7 linked regions of the Homo sapiens genome follow. The protein of the gene in region 1 purifies or fractionates together with the protein of each later gene. This does not show direct contact. Each region holds a gene or a part of one and is shown in the gene's direction. Other genes may lie near its edges. The genes, in order: LAMP1, STK17B, LEMD3, ECE1, MIOS, TFRC and CUX1.

Region 1 (3,500 bases):
TACTTTAAATTTATTTAAATGATATTTCTTTGTTTTCCTCTGAAAGCTGAGACCTGGCTGGGCATGGTGGCTTACACCCATAATCCCAGCACTTTGTGAGGCTGAGGCAGGTGGATCACTTGAGGCGAGGAGTTGGAGACCAGCCTGGCCAACATGGCAAAACCCTGTCTACCCCGTCTCTACTAAAAATACAAAAAGTAGCCAGACATGGTGGTACAAACCTGTAGTCCCAGCTACTCAGGAGGCTGAGGCACGAGAATCGCTTGAACCTGGGAGGTGGAGGGCTACTGCACTCCAGCCTGGGCAAGAGTGAGACTCAGTCTCTAAAAAATAAAAATAAAAAAGCTGAAACCCTCAGCATATTTACTAAGTGAAAAAAAAATTGTATAATTGAAAAATGACTTAGTTTGAAATATTTCCTAATGAAGTGCTTCGGGTCAGTGAAAAGTGTTTGAGGAAACTTATAAAAGGGCAGCTTAATAAAAGCCAGCCTATGGCTGCTCCCATGTGGGCATCCGGGTTGTCAGTGGTGACTGTGGGCCCTGTGACTCCTCACCTGAGGGCGGGGTGGGCAGTCTCCCTGTCCACGCTGAGCTCCAGTCAAGTGTTAAGTCTCTGGCGTCTGCTGTGTCTGCCTGTCCGCTGCTTCTGCCTTGCTGGCGTCTGCTGTAGCTTCTGTACACTCATCTGATCTTTCACAAGAGTGAGAATATTTTGTCTGTTTTTAGAAACCTTTACTATGTCAAAAATAAGTGGTAGAATCTTCCCTAGATTCTCTAGATTCATTGGAAATGCCGTTAGTATGATCCTGCCTCAGTGTTGCAGAGTGTGGCTTGAAAAACCAAGCAAAGCAGACAGTAGATTGGAGGTTTCCTTGCACGCCCTACTTTGTTTCATTGTCGTGTAGCACCTTTTCTTTTTCTTTTTTTTTTTTTGAGACAGAGTTTTGCTCTTGTCACCCAGGCTGGAGGGCAGTGGTGCAATCTCGACTCACTGCAACCTCGGCCTCCCTGGTTCAAGTGATTCTCCTGCCTCAGCCTCCCTAGTACCTGGGATTACAGGCGCCTGCCACCATGCCCAGATAATTTTTGTATTTTTAGTAGAGACGAGGTTTCACCATGTTGGGTAGGCTGGTCTTGAACTCCTGACTTCATGATCCACCTGCCTCAGCTTCCCACCAAAGTGCTGGGATTACAGGCGTGAGCCACTGTGCCCGGCAGCACCTTTTCTTTATGGACATAGATTTTGGTATTTCCTTTACCAAAGGGAAGATAGGTGGGACTACTTCTGGTTATATGCTTCGCTTTAGGCTTGAAGAACAGTTGCTGTAAAGATTTTATTTTGTGAAAGACCCAAGGTTGAAATGAGTCGGATTCATTGGAATCCATTACTTTTCCAGGGAATAGGATTTTAAATGAAAAGCTAAGCATCCTCTCTTTCAATATCTGCCCTCACAGTGTGCCTGAGTTGCATTTACACTTAGAGTGACAGATGAGACTCGGGTGTGTGTGTGGTTGGAAGGCTGTGCTCACGCAGTGTGAGATCAGCCCCTGGGTGGTGAGTGCTCACTGGACTGGCATGCACGAACTTGTAGTGGCAGAGACAAGTGAAAGCATGTCATTTCTGCACGGATTCCAGTGGTGGCAGATAGGTGTTTGGCGTTAGAACAGGCAGAAACACCTGTTTTCCAATCTGTAATGAAAGAACTGTGTAATAACGTGCAATTTGTACAATTACCAGTGTCTCTACCGTAGTGATCAGATTACATTTGTTGCCAAACATCTTGATCAGGGAAGTGGAGTATGAGTAAGTCAGAGAGGAAATATTTAGCAGTGACCACTGTCCAGCTGGAAAGACCTATAGAGCTTCCATTCTGTCCCTTTGCTTCAGGATGGGGAAGGGAAGCCACTCCACCGATGTGTAGTGCTGTGAGGACCTTTCTGAAATTGGGCAAAGAGCTCAGCACTTTGAGTCCATGAGAAATAAAACTGACCAGACGTTAAGTAGCAGGTGAGGACCACAGTGAAAGATCCTGCAGCCTCTCCCATGGATTTCTGCAGATGGGTGAGTTGTGCCTTCAAGGCACCACGTCTTACAGAGATCCTCTGAGAAAGGCGGAACAGCGTATGCCTAGGATGATGCAGAAATTGACATGTGCCTTCCTGATAAGTGTTCTGGAATAAAGCACTAAATAGCAATAGACTAGGTTGGCAAACTCAATCAGATGGGCTTAGAGATAACAATTCCAGAATAGTATCCGAAAGGGACAGGGCACCAGGTGAACTGGCTGCGTAATCCATGTGTCTGGTTGTTCATTGAATTTAAGAAACACAGTGGAGGCTGGGTGCAGTGGCTGACACCTATAATCCCAGCACCTTGGGAGGCCAAGGTGGGTGGATCACCTGAGGTCAGGAGTTCAAGACCAGCCTGGCCAAAGTGGCAAAACCCCGTCGCTACTAAAAACAGAAATTAGCTGGGTTTGGTGGCACGTGCCTGCAGTTCCAGCTACTTGGGAGGCTGAGGCAGGAGAATTGCTTGAACCTGGGAGGTGGAGGTTGCAGTGAGCTGAGATCACGCCACTGCACCCCAGCCTGGCGACAGTGAGACTCCGTCTCAAAAAAAAAAAAAGAGAAACAGTGGAATCTTGTAATAAAAGCCATCACTGCTACAGCTGTGGAAAATGGAAATACTCGGTCGTATTTTCTGGACAGTTTTTGATGGTCTCCGTCTTCCCTGGAATTGACAGGCCTCATGCATTGTGCGTCAGCAGCAATGTTTATGGTGAAAAATGGCAACGGGACCGCGTGCATAATGGCCAACTTCTCTGCTGCCTTCTCAGTGAACTACGACACCAAGAGTGGCCCTAAGGTAGGAAACACCAGGGCACTTCATGCTTCCCTTGTGTGTGTGGAAAGATGATTTTTAACATTTCAACCAAGTCTTTGAAAAATGGCCCCATCTGAACATGGTGCTTTTCCTATCTGCATATCTCCTTCTGGTGTTGTCAGTAACCTGCGCTGTCATGTGCCATAGCCACAGGCACAGTAACAAACCTGTATATGTGCTGCACCTCACTGTTCATCATGAACATTTTCCTTTTTTTTTTTTTTTTTTTTTTTGAGACGGAGTCTCGCTCTGTCACCCAGGCTGGAGTGCAGTGGCGCGATCTCTGCTCACTGCAAGCTCCGCCTCCTGGGTTCATGCCATTCTCCTGCCTCAGCCTCCCCAGTAGCTGGGGCTACAGGCGCTCGCCACCACGCACAGCTAATATTTTGTATTTTTAGTAGAGATGGGGTTTCACTGTGTTAGCCTTGATGGTCTCAGTCTCCTGACCTCGTGATCCACCCGCCTTGGCCTCCCAAAGTGCTGGGATTACAGGTGTGAGCCACCGCGCCCAGCCTATCATCAACATTTTTCTAGTTTTCTTTTTTTTTTTTGAGATGGAATCTTGGTTTGTCGCCCAGGCTGGAGTGCAGTGGTACGATCTGAGCTCGCCACAA
Region 2 (3,500 bases), on another chromosome or scaffold:
TGATTTGTTAGTATCAGAATCCAGAGAGTAATTCAAAATTTAAGGTAGAGGTTCTTAATTTTGGATCCCCTATACTCAGCCTTATAAGGTTTATGGATGGGCTTTAAGATCTGAAAACCCTCTGGAATTATATGTAAAACTTCCTATTTAAGGGCTTGTGTATATTTTTCTGGGTAGGCAGTCAATAGAATAGCTTTTATTAATTTCCCAAAATAATCCTTGACTCAGAATAGCTTTAGGCTTTTGTGAAAATAAATTTTTGGCCGCTGTAGACTTACAGTAACACGTATGCCAATAGAAATGAATTTTCGGTGTCTTTAAATTTTGGCAGAGGTACTAAGCACTGCCATTGGAGAGAGCTAAAAGCATACTTATTTCTAAAATGATAAACATGACCTTAATGGGTGTGTTTGTACATAGCTGTGATAACCATTATTTTCTTAGTTTATCATGAAGTATCTTTGAATATTTTCTGTAGGACACATATACCTTAGTTATCTGTTACAGGCTTCAAAGACTACTGAGCATTACTAAGAGACATATTGCTAAAACAATTGACAATTGTGATAGTTTCAAAGGTGGTAAAAATTGTGTTGAAAGGAAAAATTACTAATAAAATTAAATAAGTCAAATACCCATTTTTGCATTCACTTTAATTTCTTATATTTAAAGGTAAGCTATTCTAATTAGAGAGTTAACATGATACCCTATGAAGGGTACAGTTTTTGGAAATAGACCTGAGTTTAAATCTTTACCTTGACTAAATTACATATCTTCTCTGAGGTGTGAAGAACAGGAGAGCATTTATTATATAGGATTGTTGTGATACTTAAACACAATAATTTATATCAAGAGCATGGCATGGAGTTGGTGTGCAAATGAGATTATTTCCCTGCAATGATAATGTATCTTTTTTTTATTTTTTTTTTGAGACAGTCTCACTCTGTCACCCAGGCTGGAGTACAGTGGCATGATCTTGGCTCACTGCAACTTCTGCCTCCCAGATTCAATAGATTCTCCTGTGTAGCTGGGATTACAGGCATGCGCCACAACGCCTGGCTGATTTTTATATTTTTAGTAGAGACAGGGTTTTGCCATGTTGGCCAGGCTGGTCTTGAGCTCCTGACCTCAAGTGATCTGCCTGCCTCGGCCTCCCAAGATAATGTATCATTTTAGTAGTGAAGAATAAATATAATTCTGTCTTATCCTGTTGTTATAGTTTGCCATTTACATTTGTACGTGATAGCACTATAAATTTTATAAAAGTACGTATGATATTTGAATCAATTTAGAGAACAAAGATAAATTCCTAATGACACAGATATTTCAAAGAATTGACTTTAAGTTGGAGGTATAACAGAATCTGTAATATACTAACGTTGTTCTCTGCAGAAAAATTAAAATTGATTGTTCTCATCTTCCCCCAGAGGAAAATTTGCTGTGGTTAGACAATGTATATCAAAATCTACTGGCCAAGAATATGCTGCAAAATTTCTAAAAAAGAGAAGAAGAGGACAGGATTGTCGAGCAGAAATTTTACACGAGATTGCTGTGCTTGAATTGGCAAAGTCTTGTCCCCGTGTTATTAATCTTCATGAGGTCTATGAAAATACAAGTGAAATCATTTTGATATTGGAATAGTAAGTATATACTAAATAGTACCTATTTTAGTTGGTATGAAAAGATGATTAAAATGTCAAGAATAAGAATGATAAAGGTGTGACAAGAACTTGTAAAGATTCCTGTTAATAAAATGTAAAAGGGACCTAATTTATATTCAGATATTTTCATAAGACTAAATGTATAGCCTCGGGCACATACACAAAAACTAACAGCACAGAATAAGCAAATGACAAATACAACATTTGAGGAATGTGGAGAAATGAATATACATTATTTTCTTAATGGCTAATTGATTGAATTTTTCTGGAACACAATCTGATGGGCAGATAGAATTGAAGTAATTTGTATATTTTCTTCATCTATTTGAAAAATACCTTCAAGAAAATAAGAATAGAAAGGAGAATTGAAGTAATTTGTATATTTTCTTCATCTATTTGAAAAATACCTTCAAGAAAATAAGGAGAATAGAAAGGTAAACTGCATAAAACTTTGCTTAATACATTGTTTGTTAAAGAAATACATTTGGTATATGTAATGTGTAAAGCACTATGTTAGTTGTAGCAATAATAAATATATCTCTTGCCACAAGTCTGTGAAAAAGTGAAAACACCCCCAGTATTCTACAGTTCACCAGGTGGTAGGGGTAGAGGATTGTTAAGGTAACCGGTTTGTTACCTAGTATATTGACATGTGACTCTTACAGAGTGCCTTTGTTGCATGATTGTCTGTCACGTTTATTCTAAGGATGTAAAATGTGTTTGAACATCTGCAACAACTGGAAGAGATCAGCTAGATTTATGTTTAGTATACCTTGGGTGCCAATAGTTTTTAATGAAGTAAATATATTTTATGATAAACCAAGAAGAGATAAGTGTTTATTTTAGTAAAAAATGTATTGCTAACTATAGTAATTCTTTTTAGTAACTAACTTGCATCATTGCCTTTTTAAATTTAAAGGTATATTAACCTTATTTTTGTATTTAGTTATTTTAAAATTAATGTTTTTGTTCCACGAAATAGATTGGCTGGAATCAACTTGTGAATGAAAATGAAGATTTTGCAAAATGTTAAACTGACAAGTAGTTCATTTAAGAATGAATACTATGTACATTTCCCAGAACCGTCTTAAGGCGTGTTATATAGCACTTTCAAAATAAATTAGAATTGCAGAAAAGGCCAAGATACTACCAATATGATTTCAGTTTTCATATATTTTGTAATTATTTTTGTCAAAGATTCTTCAGCTGACCTTTAAAAAGTTACCTACTTGCATAACATCTGCATGTTTGAAGTGTGTAAAAAGTAGCTAACATTTGTCAAAACAGTAGTGGAATACTAGGTTTGGAGGATGAATATACATAAGAACATTGACTATTTTCATAAAATCCTCTTTTGGGGGTTCATCCAAACAGCAACGACAAAATACATCGGAAAGATTTGAGACATTTTATGGATGGACCTTGTTCATACTCCGGAAAATTGACTCAGGTACCTTACCCAGTAAACTGGCAGAACTTACTGATCTCTATACCTCTGGCTGAAATGTAGCAAGCACTCAGAAAATGTTTAAGTAGATTAATGTATTACATTTCTTACCAGAGTGACTAAGACCCACTAAAATTTATTGCTAGAACTTCGGCTTAATTACTATGCCTTCCGCTTTTGGGGTGGCATTGTCACATTTAGTAGTCTCAGTTGAAGGTAAAAATTTAATCAGGTTTAGTTGTTTTAGTAGTGTGGCATAATTTTTATATGGTGAAATTAAAACGGTGGAATCTTTAATAACTATCACCCAGTCAATTCTGTCCTCAAATCATCCTACACACTTTTTCTTCCCCAACTCTTATTTTACAAAATTCCAAATCTATAGAAAAGTT
Region 3 (3,500 bases), on another chromosome or scaffold:
AAGTAGAATTGAAAAATACAAAAATTGAGCTTATTTTTAAATAATAAAGTGTTATAAAGTTTATTAAAATTTAGTTTTTAAAATGTAATTTACCTACATTTAAAATTTTTATCATTTTTTAATTGATAATAGGGATTTAGGTGAGAGTTGTTTTTTCATTCTTTCTTTCTTCTTTAAAAATAATTCATTTTGGCCAGCTTTAGTGGCTCACACCTGTAATCCCAGCACTTTGGGAGGCAGGAGGATTGCTTGCACTCAGGAGTTTAAGACCAGCCTGGGAAGCATAGACCCTACCTCTACAAAAAAATTTTTAAAATTAGACAGGCATAGTGGCACGTGCCTGTAGTCCCAGCTACTTGGGAAGCTGAGGTAGGAGGATTTCTTGAGCCCAGGAGTTGGAGGCTGCAGTTAGCCATGATTGCACTACTGCCCTCCAGCCTGGATGACAGAGTAAGACCCTATCTCAAAAACAACAACAACAAAAGAAAAATTCATTTTACTTAAAGTAAGATTTAGTATGTTTAATCTCATGAGGTTCACTTTTCTAGTCGTTTTATGCTTCAAAGGAAAAAAGTTTGTGAAACATAGTTATATATATATATTTTTAAATAGTAGTTAGAATTTAAATGTTCACTTATCAGTGTAATGGAAGAAATGCTTTTTTCTAGAAAGTGAATCTTTGGAAAATGTTCAGTATTAAATTTTTTTATGTAGTTTTAATTATATAGCTAATTCAGCCATCTGTCTTGAAGGTTCATTCCGTTGTGGCAGTTAAAATAATCACTGAAATATTATTGAATGATATTGACCACAATTTTTAAAATACAAAGTATATTAATATTACAGGTGTAGTGATGGTTTGTGTCGTTCTGCGTTACATGAAATATCGATGGACAAAAGAAGAGGAGGAAACAAGGCAGATGTATGATATGGTGGTAAAGATTATAGGTATGATATTTGTAAGAATCTCAACTATTTCTAGAAGAGTCATTGCATGATTAAACTACATTATGTCAAGTGATTGATTCATTTGTAAATTTTATTTATTTTTAGATGTTTTACGAAGTCATAATGAAGCCTGCCAGGAAAACAAAGATTTACAACCTTACATGCCTATTCCACATGTACGCGATTCCTTAATACAGCCTCATGACAGGTGTGTTCAAAGCATTATGAGTTCAAGTAAATCAGAAAATTTAAGTGCTTTCTGCAGTATTGAAAATTATATTGAGAGCTGTGACCCTTCTCAACTAGACTTGCTTACTGCACAGGTTTTTTTTGGTTTTGCTTTGTTTTTGTACTTTATACTCTCTTTCTAAATTCTCTTCCATTCTCCTGATTTTGAGTGACACCTGGATTTCTAAGTCATTCTCATTCCTAGGCATTCTTGATTCTTTGTTGTTAGTCTCCATCTTATTTCCTTTAATTTCATCTTGATAAAGAAATAGATGACAGCCAGTGGCTGGTGTTTTACTAATGTTTTTTAAGTACTAACTTTATTATTAATGAAGCTTTTAAAGTAAAAACTAAAATGCAACTTTTTGAAAATAAAAGATAATTCCATATCCTGAAGCAGCATCTTGACCCTAGCAACACATAAAGCCAGTGGAGCTTTTGGGGAAAAAAAATACAGATGTTTGTGCTCTAGCTCTGGAAATTGAAACTCAGAAAATCTGAGATGAGATATAGGCATCTAAATCTTCTTTGAACAAACTCCATGAGTAGTGGTAAGAACAGCTAGAGTTAACTATTACCTCAGATACTAATATTTCAAAAAGATGACAAGCCAAGATGATAGTAAATTTGCCATTTTGTTCACATGATAGGAAAAAAATGAAGAAAGTCTGGGATAGAGCTGTTGACTTCCTTGCTGCTAATGAGTCTAGAGTTCGCACGGAAACACGAAGAATAGGTGGTGCAGATTTTCTGGTTTGGCGGTGGATCCAGCCTTCTGCATCCTGTGACAAAATATTAGTTATACCTTCTAAAGTATGGCAAGGTCAAGGTATGTATTTTTAAACATCAAAAAAGTAATTTTCTTCTAATTTTTCAAAATGACAAATATGTGTTAAGTGAAACAGTACAATTCAAAGATGTATGAAGGCAAAACTCTCTCGTTCTGTTTCGTAGAAGGAATCAGTGTTAGCTTCTTATGTATCCTTCCACACTTTTATCTTTGCTAATGCAAACATAAATGGTTTATCTTTAATAAAGATGAATATTCCTTGAATCTTGCCTTTTTCACTTAATGAAGCAACTTAGTATTATATATATTAACTGCATTCTTTTCATCTAATTTCTTTATGTAAATAAGACACATAATTTATGTTATATATACAATAAAATATATATAAACTATATATGTATATAAGTGAAGTCATAACTTTTTAACTGCTCTTTTTTTTCCAGTTTTTGCCTGCCTCCTCTTACTAAGACCTTTCTATTTATATATTCCTCCTGCCAAGTAACTTTTGTGGGTATCTTTCCATATTTTTCTTAATGCCTACATAGTTTCAAAAACATGTATAAATAAGAAAGGGGTAAGTTTATAGGGGGTTTTGAAGATTGGCTGTCATATGTACCCAAACCTTTACTACACAGAAAAGCAGAAAACAATGCATCAGAAAATTATGACTTTTTCCCTATAAAAGTATGTCAGTATTTGCTAAACATAGTATTTGTGGAAAAGGTAAGTTGTTTTGGACATGCAATACAAAGTCCAGTCACTCCTTTTTTATTCTCCAATTAATTTTCACTTTGAAAAAGCTTGAATAAGAGGCTTCTTTAAACATGGCATAAAAGTGATGCTCTGTCAGGGTAAACAGCTAAAGCAGGCAGGGCTTAATACCTGGGTGATGGGTTTGAGTTGATAGGTGCAGCAAACCACTATGACACACGTTTACCTATGTAACAAATCTGCATGTCCTGTACATGTATCCCAGAACTTAAATTAAAAAAATGATGCTTTCATGTTGCCAATGATTATACTATTTCCTCTAAATGATGCATGCATTTCAGTTTCCCTATAAACTGAAAATAGAGAATTCCTTATTTTACTTGACCTCTTAACAGTGTTTGACAGTTCAGCCCTCCTTGAAACTTTCTTCACTGGGATTTGGGGATGCCACCTTCTTCTGTTTTTTTTCTCCTACCTCAGACTTTTTCTTCAGTCCTTTTCTAGATTATCCTCTTTTTCTTCACCTCTAGGTGTTAGAGTTTCTCAAGGCCATCTTTTTTTTCCCACTCTGCCATTTCTCCCTAGATAATCGTCTTGCTGTGACTTAATTTACCATATTGGGATAACTCCCAAATTTTTTATTTTGAATGAAGTCTGGTTTTCAGATTTTTGTACCCAACTATATATTTCTGTACTAGGAGGTGGGCACCACAGATTCAACATGTACACCAGCCTGATCCTCTTCAGTGTTCCTAGTCTAGTTAATGATACCTTTCCTGAGTTGATTCTGCCATAAACTTAGGGATAATTCTTAATCTCTCCT
Region 4 (3,500 bases), on another chromosome or scaffold:
CAAGACCCCATCTCCAAAAAATTTAAAAATTAGCCAGGTGTGGTGATACACACCTGTAGTCATAGCTACTTAGGAGGATGAGGTGAGACAATCACCTGAGCCCAGGAGGTGGAGGCTGCAGTGAGTTGTGATGGCCCCACTGCACTTCAGCCTGGGAATCAGAGCAAGACTCCATCTCAAAAAAAATTTTTTTAAAATCCCAACTTTGAGACTAAAGTAGACCGTAATTTACCAACCTTCTTAAACATGTGGAGCCTTTTTTATCCCAGAGGCACAATTGAATTTATGTTTTGATATAATCACATTCACACAATTCATTATCCAAAATATAAACCGTGAACCGGGAAAAGTCTCTTTCCCATTCTCATCCCAGCCACCCAGGGAGCGGCTGGATTCATGCCTGGCTGCTTGGCTTGTCTAGGATAAGCCTTTGCTCCATCCATGGGTCTCCAGCTCATGGGTCGGAAACCCCCGATGAAGACCAATCCTTTCCTTTGCTCTTGAGGCTCAGAGAGGTCAGGCGACTGCTCCAGGGTCACAGAGCAAGTCAGCGGCAGAACCAGAATTCACATCTGGGTCTCCCCGCCACCTCATCACCTCCCTGCCTGCTCTCCCTCCCCACAGCTCGGGGGCTGGAACATCACAGGTCCCTGGGCCAAGGACAACTTCCAGGACACCCTGCAGGTGGTCACCGCCCACTACCGCACCTCACCCTTCTTCTCTGTCTATGTCAGTGCCGATTCCAAGAACTCCAACAGCAACGTGATCCAGGTGAGCTAGCTTGAACCTGCAGCGGTCGAGGGGGCGGGCACGACCTCTTCCTGTTTTGAGTTTAGCAGGACCTGGGGTGGGAGAGGGGCTTGCCCTGGGTGGGACGGCGGTCTTCTAGTTTCTGAGCCTGGGTTATTTCCAGAGGCCCCACTGGTGAGATCTTTGCAGGCTGCTGGCCTTGCGTAGATGGGCACTGCATACAGGTGAAACTTTGGGTGCTGATGGGTTTCCGTGGGCCCCAAGAATGATGTCAACTCCTGGGCACAGCTGAACCCACATCCTGGTTTCCCCCTCCTTAGCGTCTGCTCTTTGTAACTCTTCTTGGAATGGGTTTGAATCCATCTCTCCCTGTCAGAGCATGCCCCAGACAGAGGCTCAGCCTGCCCAGGGGAGCTCCAGCACTGGTCTGCCCCAACCTCCAATGCAGAAGTGAGAAACCCAGGCTGGGGGTCCTAAAAGCTGAGTTCCCAGCCCATCTCTACCATTCAGTCACTGTGTGACCTTGGGCAAGTGCCTCAACCTCTCAGAGCTACAGTTACCTTATAAATCAAATGGATTGCAATAACACCTGTCCTAGGTATGCCAAGATGTGGCCATGGGTGCCAATAGTAGCAAGCAGAATTTGACCCTCCCCTCCTGCTTGGCAGGCACTTGACCAGCACTGTCTTCTTGAATCCCCATTCTAGCTCTGAAGGTTAGGTTTTATTTTCCCTATTTACCTGAGAAGAAACCTGAGAATCAGAAAGGTTCAGTAACTTGGCCAAGATCACACAGCTTTTGAGTGACTCTTAACCACCTGGAAAGCGTTGGGGAGATAGAGGCACTTTGCCGAGGCAAGTAGCTGTTTAAAAAGGAGGGTGGCTCTGTCCAGCCCTTCTGAGGAGCCCAGGAGCCCTGCGGGGGGGGGCCACGTGGACAGGCAGGAATGTGTCATCCCGTCCCTGAGTGGGCTTCTCAGTGACTGTAGCCAGCAGTCCTGCTTCTCCAAGGGCCTGAGCTGGGCCTCTGCTGCCATGTGCCAGCCATTCCCAGGGCAGGAGGCCGTGCAGTGGATACACGCATTGCAACACGAATTCCCTCTCATGCCTGCTTCTCTTGCCAGGTGGACCAGTCTGGCCTGGGCTTGCCCTCGAGAGACTATTACCTGAACAAAACTGAAAACGAGAAGGTAAGCGTGCCTCTCCCCTCCCAGCCTGCCTCCCAGCACGGTCCTTCCTGCTCCGTGTCCACACCCACACCTGTGCAGGTCTTTGAAGCTAGGGGAGCCCAGGGGTGTCAGTGACCTGATGGGTGAAACAGGCAGACCCTGGCAGGGGAGGGACACCCCTAGGCTGGCTGTGTCACTCAGGCATCATGGACACAAGGGGCAAGAGACAGGTATCATTTGTCCTGGTTCTAGAGAGAGGCAGAGGCAGCAATAACAGCTACCACAATTCGCCTGGCCCTTTATACATCACCTGTGACCCTCCCATTAACCCTGCAGATACTGAACTTCATTTGCCTCATCTGTCAAACAGGAATTAGTTTTGTCTTGCCTTTTACAGAAGAGGGTATCAGGCTCAGAGATGCTAAGTGATCTGCTCAAGGTCACATAGCCAGTAAATGACGAGCCTGAGATTCACATCCGGATCCACGTGCTCCGAAGCCCATGGCTCTCCCTCCCCCTGGCCTGCCTCTTGTGATGCCTCTTGGGGCGACCTCACCTGGAACTCATTCATCTGTCCTTTCATCCTTCCGCCGGCATGTACTTGACCAAGCGCCCACAGAGTGCCTGATGCTGGGGAGATGGTAGCAGACAAGACCACCATAGCCTTCGTCCCACAGGGCCTGTGGTTTGGTCGGCGAGGCGGATATTATTTAACTAAGAGAAAGTGAAGCTGAGAAAGTCTACCGTGGAGACCTAATTCAGATCTTGGAACACGGGTGGGGGGTGGTCAGAAAAGATGCATTCTAAGAATGGAAAGACAGCCCCAGGACAAGCCCTGGAAGACAGGGACCAGCCCAGGTGGGGACCTGTGAGACGAGCCAAGACTTTGGGCTTTCTCCTGGAGGCTGTAGGGAAGCAGCAGAGAGACACGGCCCCGAGATCATTCTCAATGCTGTGTCTCCCACGGGTGTCTTCTTCTTTTTTTTTTGAGACAAAGTCTCTCTCTGCCGCCCAGGCTAGAGTGCCATGGCGCACAATCTGGGCTCACTGCAACCTCCTCCTCCTGGGTTCAAGTGATTCTCCTGCCTCAGCCTCCTGAGTAGCTGGGATTATAGGCACCTCCCACTATGCTCAGCTAATTTTTGTATTTTTAGTAGAGACGGGGTTTCGCCATGTTGGCCAGGTTGGTCTCAAACTCCTGACCTTAGGTGATCCACCCACCTCAGCCTCCCAAAGTGCCAGGATTACAGGCGTGAGCCACCACACCTGGCCCCACGGGTGTCTTGGGGGCACTGTGCAGCCCCCTGGCTCCCTGTGCCGGACTTGGCTGGCCAAGCCCCCCACCAACTCTCGTCCAGTGGATAGTGGGGGGGCAGCCACTGACAGTTTGGGGTATGGGCCCTGCAGGTGCTGACCGGATATCTGAACTACATGGTCCAGCTGGGGAAGCTGCTGGGCGGCGGGGACGAGGAGGCCATCCGGCCCCAGATGCAGCAGATCTTGGACTTTGAGACGGCACTGGCCAACATCACCATCCCACAGGAGAAGCGCCGTGATGAGGAGCTCATCTACCACAAAGTGA
Region 5 (3,500 bases), on another chromosome or scaffold:
TCCCATTGGGGATGAAACTGAACCCACAATAATTGAAAGAAGTGTGCAACCTTGTGACAATTACATTGCTTCCTTTGCGTGGCATCCAACAAGTCAAAATCGAATGATAGTTGTAACTCCCAACCGAACAATGTCAGACTTCACTGTTTTTGAAAGGATATCTCTTGCCTGGAGCCCAATTACATCTTTAATGTGGGCTTGTGGTCGTCATTTATATGAATGTACGGAAGAAGAAAATGATAATTCTTTAGAAAAAGATATAGCAACGAAGATGCGTCTTCGGGCTTTATCAAGGTATGGACTTGATACAGAGCAGGTGTGGAGGAACCACATTTTAGCTGGAAATGAAGATCCACAGCTCAAGTCACTCTGGTATACTCTGCACTATATCCTTTTCATTGTGAATTTTGTGAGGTGAATCAGGTAGAAATGTTCTTGAAGTTTGCCAAAAGGTCAGTCTGTAAATATGCTCAATGTTTTATATACAAATACAAGTTACATAATACTAACATTATAAAGTAAAATTGTTCTAAACTTTCGAACTTGAAATACTGCTTTGTAGATTGTGTAGGAGGAAGAAAAGTGTATCTCTGCAATAGAGTCGAACCACCTTATTTACACTGATACTTATTATGAATTGGCTCCAAATCAAAATAAATTTAGCTTTGAAATATATTGTCATGCATCACTAGTATTTCCTATGCATTTAAATACTTATGAAGCAATACACAGAAGATATGGATCAGAAATCTCCAGGCAACAAAGGATCATTGGTTTATGCAGGAATTAAATCAATTGTAAAGTCATCGTTGGGTAAGAAAATTCTATTTCATTTTCTCCAATATGTTTATAACTTTTGTACTTTTATTTTGCCCCCTGTCATTTGGCAGAAATTATCTAGTTATTTCAGGATCATGTACATAATTTTTTTTGTTTTCTGATTGGATATTTCATTGTATTGTTGAGTTAAATGCATACTTGTATTTATATCCAAAACCCTTTTTGCAGGGAGTCTTAATTCTCTGAAGTGATGTTGATCTTCTTAAATCTATCCACACGTTTATTCAATGTTATTTTTTTGAAAACCCACTTTGAGAGGTTTTACACTAGACAATTTACAGATTACTGATTGTTAGTTCAGGTTTTATCGCAACATTTTGCTTCTTAAAAACTAAAAAGATCTCTAATTGAAGGAGATCCCTTTTTATTTTGCTCCTCAAATACTTTCATTGAGCCATCTAACAGCAAGGAGTATGATATGAAATATGGCCTAACGTGGAGGAATTATACCTGATATAGTCCTTGGTTAATTAGTGAATGAATTAATTAACGTGTGAGTTAATGTAGGATTGAAAATTGGTATGGTAAACTATTAAAGAATAAAAGTGACAAAAACCAAACTTTTTTTTTTTTCTGACTGCTTTAAACAGTTGTTCCTATTCTTTTACTGGAATTGAATAATGGGTTATATTAGAATTGCAGGTTGAGTATACCTTATCCAAAATGGCTTGGGACCAAAAATGTTTCAGATACTTTCAGATTTTGAAATATTTGCGTTATATACTTAGAGATTGACCATCCCTATTCTGAAATCCAAAATGCTCCGATGAGCATTTCCTTTGAATATCATCTCAGCACTTAGAAAGTTTCAGATTTTGAAGCCTTTTGGACTTCAGTTTTCAGATTTGGGATGCTCACCCTGTATCTCTGTGATCTAGGATTCGTTCTCTAACTTTTGGTAAGTCAAATTTGGGCCCAAGTCAAGCTGTTAGAAAAGTAGTTAACATTATTTAGTCAAAGAGCAGTAATAGAAGTAGTAAATCCAATTTGATTTTTTACGGAGCTTGTATCAGTACCATACAAACAAAATACAAAATAATAAAATATTTTAGAGTAGGTTAAGTGTTTTAATTAAACTGTTACATTATAGTGTTTTTTTAACGTCTTTCAAATTACTTTGGTTCACTTTACTGAAAGATGCAGTAGACTACTTACTGATCAGTTTGATTTTATTGTTTTTGTATTAGCCCTCCACCAAAAAAAGTAACCTTTATTATAAATAGTAAAATGAATAAGTTTAGTTAGAAGCTGCTGTTTTTATTAACATAGGTAAAAGGGCACACATACTGTTTTACTCCCACAAATGAACCTGGTACCATGGTTCAAGATTTTAGAGCCATTGCCTATTGCTACAAAGAATTAAACACCAAGTTTATAGAATTTATAGTGTTTTAGCTATATAGTAGATCAGGCCACACTGCACTCAATTATTTAGAGGTTGGTTATTGTGTTTTTTGTATTTTGATATATTTTAAGGAAAAGCCAGCATCTGAGGAAAAGCAAAAGGGGAAAATGTAATATGTTTATGTTTCTGGTGCACTAGAGACAAACTGAGTATCCCACCCCTGTGTCAAAATAGTCTCTACCCAGACTAAAGAAACACTACTGTTGGAAAGATTTCCTCATTCATCATTCTCTCATTGCTAGGTTTTCAGCTTTTTTTTTTTTGTTTGGTATAGATATTTTTGTTTCTACTACCCAAAGGTGAAAAGTAGAGAAATACTGTCAAATATGCCACTCTTAGATTTCAGTCTTCTGTTTTATTTGGCCATACCTTTTCCTCTAATTGTATCTCTAATAATCAACACATGGTAAGTCAACACATTGAGCCATCTTGTCCACAGTAACCTAATACACAAGTTTATTAGAGCATACAGCTAAATTTTAATTTTGGTAACAAATAGTATATATATAAGTGCTTGCTATGAATTAGTTGCTTTTCCCATGTTACTTTAATTTTTACAACTACAATATGAAGTAAGCTCATTCATTCAGCAAGTATTTATTACCTACATGCATGCTATATGCCAGGAGTTATCCTAGGAACTAGAGACATAACTCTCAAGAAGATACATAAATCTCTTCCCTCATGGAGATTGAGCAGGATCAATGTCATCCCTGCTCTTGAGGAGTTTATATTCTAGTTTAGAATATAGACAAGTAAGCTGGCAGTTATAACATAGGGAAGAACAGACAGTTAATTACAGGAAGGACTCCTAATCTGGTTGCAGGGATTAGAGGTTTCTCAGAGGAGGTACAGTTAAAGACAAGGTCCAGACAGGGAGCAGCATGTGCAGTGGACCCAGAGGGTAGAGAGCATAGCACATTATTATGGCTGAAACAGAGCATGAGAGAGGAAGTGAGGAAAGAATGGAGGCTAGAAAGGTAAGCAGTGGGCTAACTCAAGAAAGACTTAGAAATCATGTTAAGAATTTAGGGAGATTCATCTTGTAAGACGGGGAAACAGATGGATTTGTGACAGATTTGTGTTTTAAAAGGATCAAGATTGATAGTAGGGATATCAGATAGAAGCCTGCTGCAAGGAGGCAAGACGTGATGCTATCCTTACCAAGGTTAGTAGCAGAGGAGCTAGAGAAATGTGGATACATTAGAGAATAGGAGAAAATTTAATGATTAATTAGATAAAGGGGTGGAGAAGA
Region 6 (3,500 bases), on another chromosome or scaffold:
GGGTTTCTCCATGTTGGTCAGGCTCCATGAGGTCAGAGCTCCTGACCTCAGGTGATCTGCCTCCCTCAGCCTCCCAAAGTGCTGGGATTACAGGCATGAGCCACCGCGCCCAGCCTATGTGTCAGTTTTATTGGGAGGTAATAAGGCCCTAGGAAATTCTTGTTAAAAATTGACCATTATGACTAGAAAATCTATTCTAAGTTATTGACTAGACCAGTGATAAGCAAATTTCTTAAGGGGGCAGATAATAAACCTTTTGCCAGGCTATACAGTCTCTCTTTTAGCTGTTCAACTCTGTGGGAGCAAGAAAACAGGCACAGACTGTGCGTAGTGAATGGGCATGCGGGCTGTAGTTTGCCAGTCCCTGGAGTTAACTTTAAATGCAATCAAACAGCCAACACTTACTAAGAAATAAGTCCTTGGACTTAAGTAGTCAGTAAATTTAATTAGTAGTGTAGGAAAAAAGTAGCTCTACTAGTAAGGTAAAATTAATATTCTCATGTGAATTTTTAATTCCCAGAGTTTTTAGTCAGATTTGAAGTAAGGCTCTTTTATCCTTAATACATATACTGTGCTTTTACCTTTCTACTGATGTGCTAATTCTAGAAAAGTTTAGAAGCTGATTATATAAGTTCTTTCTTCCTCTTTTTTCTTTTTTAAAGATCACTATGTTGTAGTTGGGGCCCAGAGAGATGCATGGGGCCCTGGAGCTGCAAAATCCGGTGTAGGCACAGCTCTCCTATTGAAACTTGCCCAGATGTTCTCAGATATGGTCTTAAAAGGTAGAGTACAAATTTTGATTCTTTTGAATATTGGTGCACTGCATACAGTTCTAGATGTTATACTGTGCTTTGCTCACTTTGCCTGCATTCCTGTGGTTCTCATGCTAGACTCTAGTTCTTAAATACAAGGCAGATTGTCTTTTGTTGTAGCTGCCTTTTCCTTTGAAACAGCTTTCCATAAAGTGTCTTAACTGTGCTAGAAATCACCAGTTTCTTTGAGACAGTGGAGTTACTGAGCCCTAGTGCTTAGTGTGGTGGATCCAGAGTGATAAGGTGGATCATAGTCCCTAAGCAATCTATTTGAAAGCAGTAGCATACCTCTCTACTCATGTACTGAGGCCTAACAGCTATTGAAATTTTGTTCTGTTTATTCATTTATTCATTTTTTGAGACAGAGTTTCACTCTGTTGCCCAGGCTGGAGTGCAGTGGTGTGATCTCACTTAGCTCACTGCAACCTCTGCCTCCCGACTTCAAGCAATTCTCCTGCCTCAGCCTCCTGAGTAGCTGGGATTACAGGCACCCACAACCACACCCGGCCAATTTTTGTATTTTTACTAGAGACAGGGTTTCGCCATGTTGGCCAGGCTAGTCTCCTGACCTCAAGTGATTCACCCGCCTCAGCCTCCCAAAATGCTGCTAGTGAGCCACCGTGCCCTGCCTCTTTTGTTTATTTTTGAGCCTTTCTGTCCTACTTTCCACTCTTTCACACTCCTACCCACCCACACATTCAAAATCACGTCACATTCTTGAATCTTTGGGTCTTAGGGCAAACTGCAATGCTTAACTTTAATACAGAGTACATTAATGGAGAAAAAGATACAGTGAGGGAAGTGGGAGGGATGGAGGGCAGTGTGATACATGTAACCTCAAAAGGTGCTGTCACAAATATAGTTTCTCTGCAAACTCTTCTTGTAACTTAAATTTGTGAATTTTTATTTTATTTTAGAATTATTTTTTTAAAAATCCAATGTTTGGATTTACCTCTGAAGATTTTTCTCAAGATGTGCATCATCATGCTTACACTGTTTTCAATGATCTCTGGGTCCAGAAGTTAAGGAACTCCAAGAATGAAATTGTGAAAGGGTGACTACTGGCCCCTGCTATGTACTCAAAATCTTATTTGCAGATCTCCTATCTTGCTCTTTGTAGGTTACTTTAAAAAAAATTATTCCTATTCTTTTATTCTTTTACCTGGGGTCTCAAAAAAAGATTTTGTTAGTTTTTTTTTTCTTTTTTGGCTCAGAAAAAAAAGATTTTGGAATCTGCTATCTTGGAATTAGACCTTCTGATTCATCTTAAGTGGGATACCTTCCATCCTTGTCTGTGTATAACCTTTCCTCAGGTAAAGCTAACTTTTTTCTCTTTCAGATGGGTTTCAGCCCAGCAGAAGCATTATCTTTGCCAGTTGGAGTGCTGGAGACTTTGGATCGGTTGGTGCCACTGAATGGCTAGAGGTATTCTTTATCATCCCTTCCCATATTGGACACGAGCTTGTGGGCTTAGGCTGTTGTCCAGAAGTGATGTTTTTATAGGTTTGATTTTACCACTTTTGCCTTTGCGTTTAGTCTCAGTAGAGTCCAGAATTGAAAATGAATCCCTAATGCTACTGTATGTGATAAATAAACAGATTTATACTTATTAGTGTTTTCCCTTCTCTTCTAGGGATACCTTTCGTCCCTGCATTTAAAGGCTTTCACTTATATTAATCTGGATAAAGCGGTTCTTGGTAAGTATCCCTTTCATTAGCTGTGTATGAATTCAGGTAAACTTTTTTGAGATGGAGTTTTGCTCTTGTCGCCCAGGCTGGAGTGCAATGGCACGATCTCGGCTCACTGCAACCTCTGTCTCCCAGATTCAAGCGATTCTCCTGCCTTAGCCTCCTGAGTAGCTGGGATTACAGGTGCTCACTACCACACCCAGCTAATTTTTTGTATTTTTAGTAGAGACAGGGCTTCACTATGTTGGCCAGGATGGTCTCGAACTCCTGACCTCAGGCGATCTGCCTGCCTCGGCCTGGGATTACAGATGTGGGCCACTGTGCCTGGCCAGATAAACTACTTTGAAGTGGAAGAAAGCTTTTTTTTTTTTTTGAGACAGGGTCTCACTGTATTGCCCAGGCTAGAGTGCAGTGGCACAATCTTGGCTCACTGCAGCCTTGACCTCCTGGGCTCAGGTGATCCTCCCACTTCAGCCACCTGGCTAATTTTTTTTGTAGAGATGGGGTTTTGCCATGTTGCCCAGGCTGGTGTCAAACTCCTGAGTTCAAGCATTCTATGTCAGCTGCCCAAAATGCTGCGGTTACAGGCATGAGCCATTGCCCTCAGCCTGTATCTTAACCTTCCTTTAAATAGTCTGTCAAGTTACACAGTGAGCACAATTGCTTGTCTAGAACAGTGGGTAGTTCTCAGTGTGGCCCCCAGATGAGTAGCATTAGGAACTGTTACGAATGCAAACTGTCATGTCTACCCCAGACCTTTGAGTCAGAAATGGGAGTGTTGGTCTAAAAACTGGGCTTTTTGGGCTGGGCGCAGTGGTGCACGCCTGTAATCCCAGCACTTGGGAGGCCAAGGCAGGCGGATCACCTGAGGTCAGGAGTTCGAGACCAGCCTGGCCAACATGGTGAAACCCCGTCTCTACTAAAAATACCAAAATTAGCCGGGTGTGGTGGCGAGTACCTGTAATCCCAGCTACTCAGGAGGCTGAGGTAGGAGAATCAC
Region 7 (3,500 bases), on another chromosome or scaffold:
GGCCGGTCAGCCAGGGAAGGGCCTCTCAGAAGATTCTAGAAACTCCCGAGTTGCACAGGCAGCCCTGAGCCCTTTCTTTAGTGACAGGCGGCTCAGATTTCATGTCACACAGCCCATATCGTCAACACCACCATTCCCCTGATTGTTTTGTTCTTACCACACTTGTTTTTCAACAGAGAATCCAGGCCAGAGCCTGAACAGACTATTTCAGGAAGTACCGAAACGAAGAAATGGGTCTGAAGGTATGTTGCAGGCAGGCGTTTTCTTTGCAGTCAGTCACCTAGGGAAGCAGCATGTCCTTAGCTGTGTATTTGGGTTAAAACTGTGCAGTGTGATTCTGGCCTGGAACCTGATGGAAAAACAGCTAGTAAGTATAAAACAAGGCACGGGTTCAAGCACACCCAGCCCCTTCCTCCCGAGCTGCCTGCCCTCTCCCAAGCACAGGCGGGGGTGAGAAGAGGCATTGCTAAGCTAAGCCCCCCGAGTCTGAATCCCAGCCCACTTCAGATCCTAATTACCCGGTCCCCCGTTTTTCTCAGACGCAGTTGAAAAAATAACAGCGGTTGCTCTGAGAAAAGTCAGGTGACCCGTCAAATTAAATACTGCTGCTTCCTCGTATTTTTAACTCGGAAACACACTCAAGGTCCTATGGAACGGACGCATCCCACATCGTCCCGGTGGCATACTTGTTTTTAAATGGTGGTATACTTGTTTTGAATGCAGTGGTTCCTATTTAGGAAGGTAGTAAGAAATTAAACTATCCGGGTGGCTTCCCGAAAGAGCTGGGGCCAGCCCCTGGGCCATAGTAGCCTCATTTCGTCGGCACGTGTGCCTGCACAAAACATCACCATGTGGCCGAAAGAATCCATCCTCCCCACTTAGGAATTTCTGCAGGCTCCTTTCCTCGTATGTAAATTTTAAAAAGATATTATGTGATAATAGGTGCAAACAATTTTTTAAGTTAAGCCTTTCTTCACCCTGTGCCTCTGAATGATTGATAGACAATCAGCCTCAAACCCTCTGCCCTCCTTTTCCGTTTATCCTGTGTGGGACCCCAGCATCCAATAAACATCTAACCCCGAGGAGAGTCAGTCCCAAGCCACAGCAGTTGCTTCTAAGTGACTCATGAGAAACATTGCCTTTTAATCACTCGCCTTTTATATATATGGATTAAATGATCGGTTCTCCCGGGTACTAACCCACGGGTGGTGTCCGGCTTTGGCAGAGTAACATTGACCGTAAGGTCAAATGAGCAGGAAATCCCTCCTGCCCGGTGTCGCTGTGAAGTTGCACTCACAGCAAACACAGGCCACTGGGAGGCCACATCTGCCTCCTTGTGTCACCAGCCCCCACCCGGGGCTATATATCAGAATGACGTCTTCGCGCAGCGCTGATTTTTGTCCGGGGTTTGGGTTTGATGTCATTGGCGCAACTTCTCCCCACAGGTAACATCACCACCCGGATCCGAGCCTCGGAGACTGGCTCTGATGAAGCCATCAAGTCCATCCTAGAGCAAGCCAAGAGGGAGCTCCAAGTGCAGAAAACTGGTACAGCTTCCATTTCTTCATCCACTGTCTTCAAACTTAATTAAGAGAATTGTCATGAGTGCTCTGGTCAGCAGTAATTAACTATTTTTTTTTTAAACAATAATGAATGCCTGTTCTCAAGCATTTAGGCACGTAGAGAGAAGCAGGTCTGTGTGATCTGTATTTGCCTAATAGTTACCTTTTTTTTTGAGATGCAGTCTCTCTCTGTTGCCTGTGCTGGAGTGCAGTGGCACGATCTCAGCTCACTGCAACCTCTGCCTCCCGGGTTTAAGCGATTCTCCTGCCTCAGTCTCCCGAGTAGCTGGGACTATAGACATGTGCCACCATGCCCATGATATTTGTGTTTTTAGTAGAGACGGGGTTTTACCATGTCGGCCAGGCTGGTCTCGAACTCCTGACCTCCAGTGATCCTCCCACCTCGGCCTCCCACGGTGCTGGGATTACAGGTGTGAGCCACCGCGCCTGGCCCCTAGTTGTAATTATTCACAGAAATTACGCTCCTTAACTTTGACAGAACCACTTGCATTTCAGAATATAGCACAGGAAAATGAATACCAAGTATAAAAATTATCAGAGGTCAGGCGCGGTGGCTCACACCTGCAATCCTGGCATTTTGGGAAGCTGATGGGGGAGGATGACTTGAGTTCAGGAGTTTAAGACCAGCCTATGCAACACAGTGAGAGACCTTGTCTCTTAAAACACTAGCCAGGCATGGTGGCATGCACCTGTGGTCCCAGCTACTTGGGAGGCTGAGCTGGGAGGATTGCTTGAGCCAGGGAGGTGGAGGGTGGGTACAGTGAGCCGTGATCGTGCCACTGCGCTCCAGCCTGGACAACAGCGAGATCCTGTCGCTAAAAAAAAAAAAAAAAAAAAAAAAAAAAATTCTCGGGGAAAGGAGCCCCAGGAGGGCAGGTCGGGGAGCACTTTCACTGACACCCCCTTTATTACCCTCTACATCTGTGTGTATACCAAAGGCCACCAGGTCATCAAGCTGTAGTGTCAGGCCCTGGTCCTTGGTTGAGACAAGATGCCTGAATGTTTCACTGACAGGGGCCATGCTGGGGAAATACACAGTGTGGTTCTCCCAAATAACCCACACTTTGCAGTAGGTCAAGTTAGGATGAGAAGCATGTCCCCAGCTGAAGGGGGCCGCCCTGCCACACTCTCACCCCTGTTTCTCCATGCAGCAGAGCCGGCCCAGCCTTCCTCCGCATCCGGCAGCGGGAACTCTGATGACGCCATCCGCTCCATCCTGCAGCAAGCCCGCCGGGAGATGGAGGCCCAGCAGGCTGCCCTCGACCCTGCCTTAAAGCAGGCACCACTGTCCCAGAGTGACATCACCATCCTCACCCCCAAGCTTCTGTCCACCTCGCCCATGCCCACCGTGTCCAGCTACCCACCTCTCGCCATCTCCCTGAAGAAGCCCTCCGCAGCTCCTGAGGCCGGTGCCTCTGCTCTGCCGAACCCCCCGGCCCTCAAAAAGGAGGCCCAGGACGCCCCCGGGCTGGACCCCCAGGGAGCAGCCGATTGTGCACAAGGGGTCCTGAGACAGGTGAAAAATGAGGTGGGCCGCAGCGGTGCCTGGAAGGACCACTGGTGGAGCGCGGTGCAGCCGGAGAGAAGAAATGCCGCCTCCTCCGAGGAGGCCAAGGCCGAAGAAACGGGCGGCGGGAAAGAGAAGGGCAGCGGTGGCAGCGGAGGTGGCAGCCAGCCTCGGGCCGAGCGCAGTCAGCTCCAGGGACCCTCGTCGTCAGAGTACTGGAAGGAGTGGCCCAGCGCTGAGTCCCCATACTCCCAGAGCTCAGAGCTGAGTCTGACCGGGGCCAGCCGCAGCGAGACACCACAGAACAGCCCCCTGCCATCCTCCCCGATCGTGCCCATGTCCAAGCCCACCAAGCCCTCGGTCCCCCCGCTGACCCCCGAGCAGTACGAGGTCTACATGTACCAGGAGGT

The links.
Region 2: the proteins of LAMP1 (region 1) and STK17B purify together in Homo sapiens (affinity purification with mass spectrometry; 2 studies listed by BioGRID and IntAct, with this or other methods). This does not show direct contact.
Region 3: the proteins of LAMP1 (region 1) and LEMD3 purify together in Homo sapiens (affinity purification with mass spectrometry; 2 studies listed by BioGRID and IntAct, with this or other methods). This does not show direct contact.
Region 4: the proteins of LAMP1 (region 1) and ECE1 purify together in Homo sapiens (affinity purification with mass spectrometry; one large-scale study listed by BioGRID and IntAct). This does not show direct contact.
Region 5: the proteins of LAMP1 (region 1) and MIOS purify together in Homo sapiens (affinity purification with western blotting, with the first as the bait; one study listed by BioGRID). This does not show direct contact.
Region 6: the proteins of LAMP1 (region 1) and TFRC purify together in Homo sapiens (affinity purification with mass spectrometry; 2 studies listed by BioGRID and IntAct, with this or other methods). This does not show direct contact.
Region 7: the proteins of LAMP1 (region 1) and CUX1 purify together in Homo sapiens (affinity purification with mass spectrometry; 2 studies listed by BioGRID and IntAct, with this or other methods). This does not show direct contact.

What each region holds. Positions count from the first base shown.
Region 1 is NC_000013.11:113,303,739-113,307,238, forward strand, and holds part of LAMP1 (lysosome-associated membrane glycoprotein 1 precursor), read left to right. Parts: intron 1-1,895; exon of another isoform or gene 1,896-2,060; coding exon of another isoform or gene 2,061-2,064; intron 2,065-2,746; coding exon 2,747-2,868; intron 2,869-3,500. UniProt on the Homo sapiens protein: Lysosomal membrane glycoprotein which plays an important role in lysosome biogenesis, lysosomal pH regulation, autophagy and cholesterol homeostasis.
Region 2 is NC_000002.12:196,154,579-196,158,078, reverse strand, and holds part of STK17B (serine/threonine-protein kinase 17B), read left to right. Parts: intron 1-1,427; coding exon 1,428-1,640; intron 1,641-3,035; exon of another isoform or gene 3,036-3,111; intron 3,112-3,500. UniProt on the Homo sapiens protein: Phosphorylates myosin light chains. Acts as a positive regulator of apoptosis.
Region 3 is NC_000012.12:65,239,083-65,242,582, forward strand, and holds part of LEMD3 (inner nuclear membrane protein Man1), read left to right. Parts: intron 1-846; coding exon 847-948; intron 949-1,053; coding exon 1,054-1,156; intron 1,157-1,826; coding exon 1,827-2,005; intron 2,006-3,500.
Region 4 is NC_000001.11:21,255,964-21,259,463, reverse strand, and holds part of ECE1 (endothelin-converting enzyme 1), read left to right. Parts: intron 1-624; coding exon 625-771; intron 772-1,873; coding exon 1,874-1,939; intron 1,940-3,325; coding exon 3,326-3,500. UniProt on the Homo sapiens protein: Converts big endothelin-1 to endothelin-1.
Region 5 is NC_000007.14:7,573,384-7,576,883, forward strand, and holds part of MIOS (GATOR2 complex protein MIOS), read left to right. Parts: coding exon 1-386; intron 387-714; coding exon 715-813; intron 814-3,500. UniProt on the Homo sapiens protein: As a component of the GATOR2 complex, functions as an activator of the amino acid-sensing branch of the mTORC1 signaling pathway. The GATOR2 complex indirectly activates mTORC1 through the inhibition of the GATOR1 subcomplex.
Region 6 is NC_000003.12:196,061,591-196,065,090, reverse strand, and holds part of TFRC (transferrin receptor protein 1), read left to right. Parts: intron 1-662; coding exon 663-782; intron 783-2,151; coding exon 2,152-2,237; intron 2,238-2,445; coding exon 2,446-2,509; intron 2,510-3,500. UniProt on the Homo sapiens protein: Cellular uptake of iron occurs via receptor-mediated endocytosis of ligand-occupied transferrin receptor into specialized endosomes. Endosomal acidification leads to iron release.
Region 7 is NC_000007.14:102,198,626-102,202,125, forward strand, and holds part of CUX1 (Homeobox protein cut-like 1), read left to right. Parts: intron 1-176; coding exon 177-242; intron 243-1,445; coding exon 1,446-1,547; intron 1,548-2,734; coding exon 2,735-3,500. UniProt on the Homo sapiens protein: May be involved in intra-Golgi retrograde transport.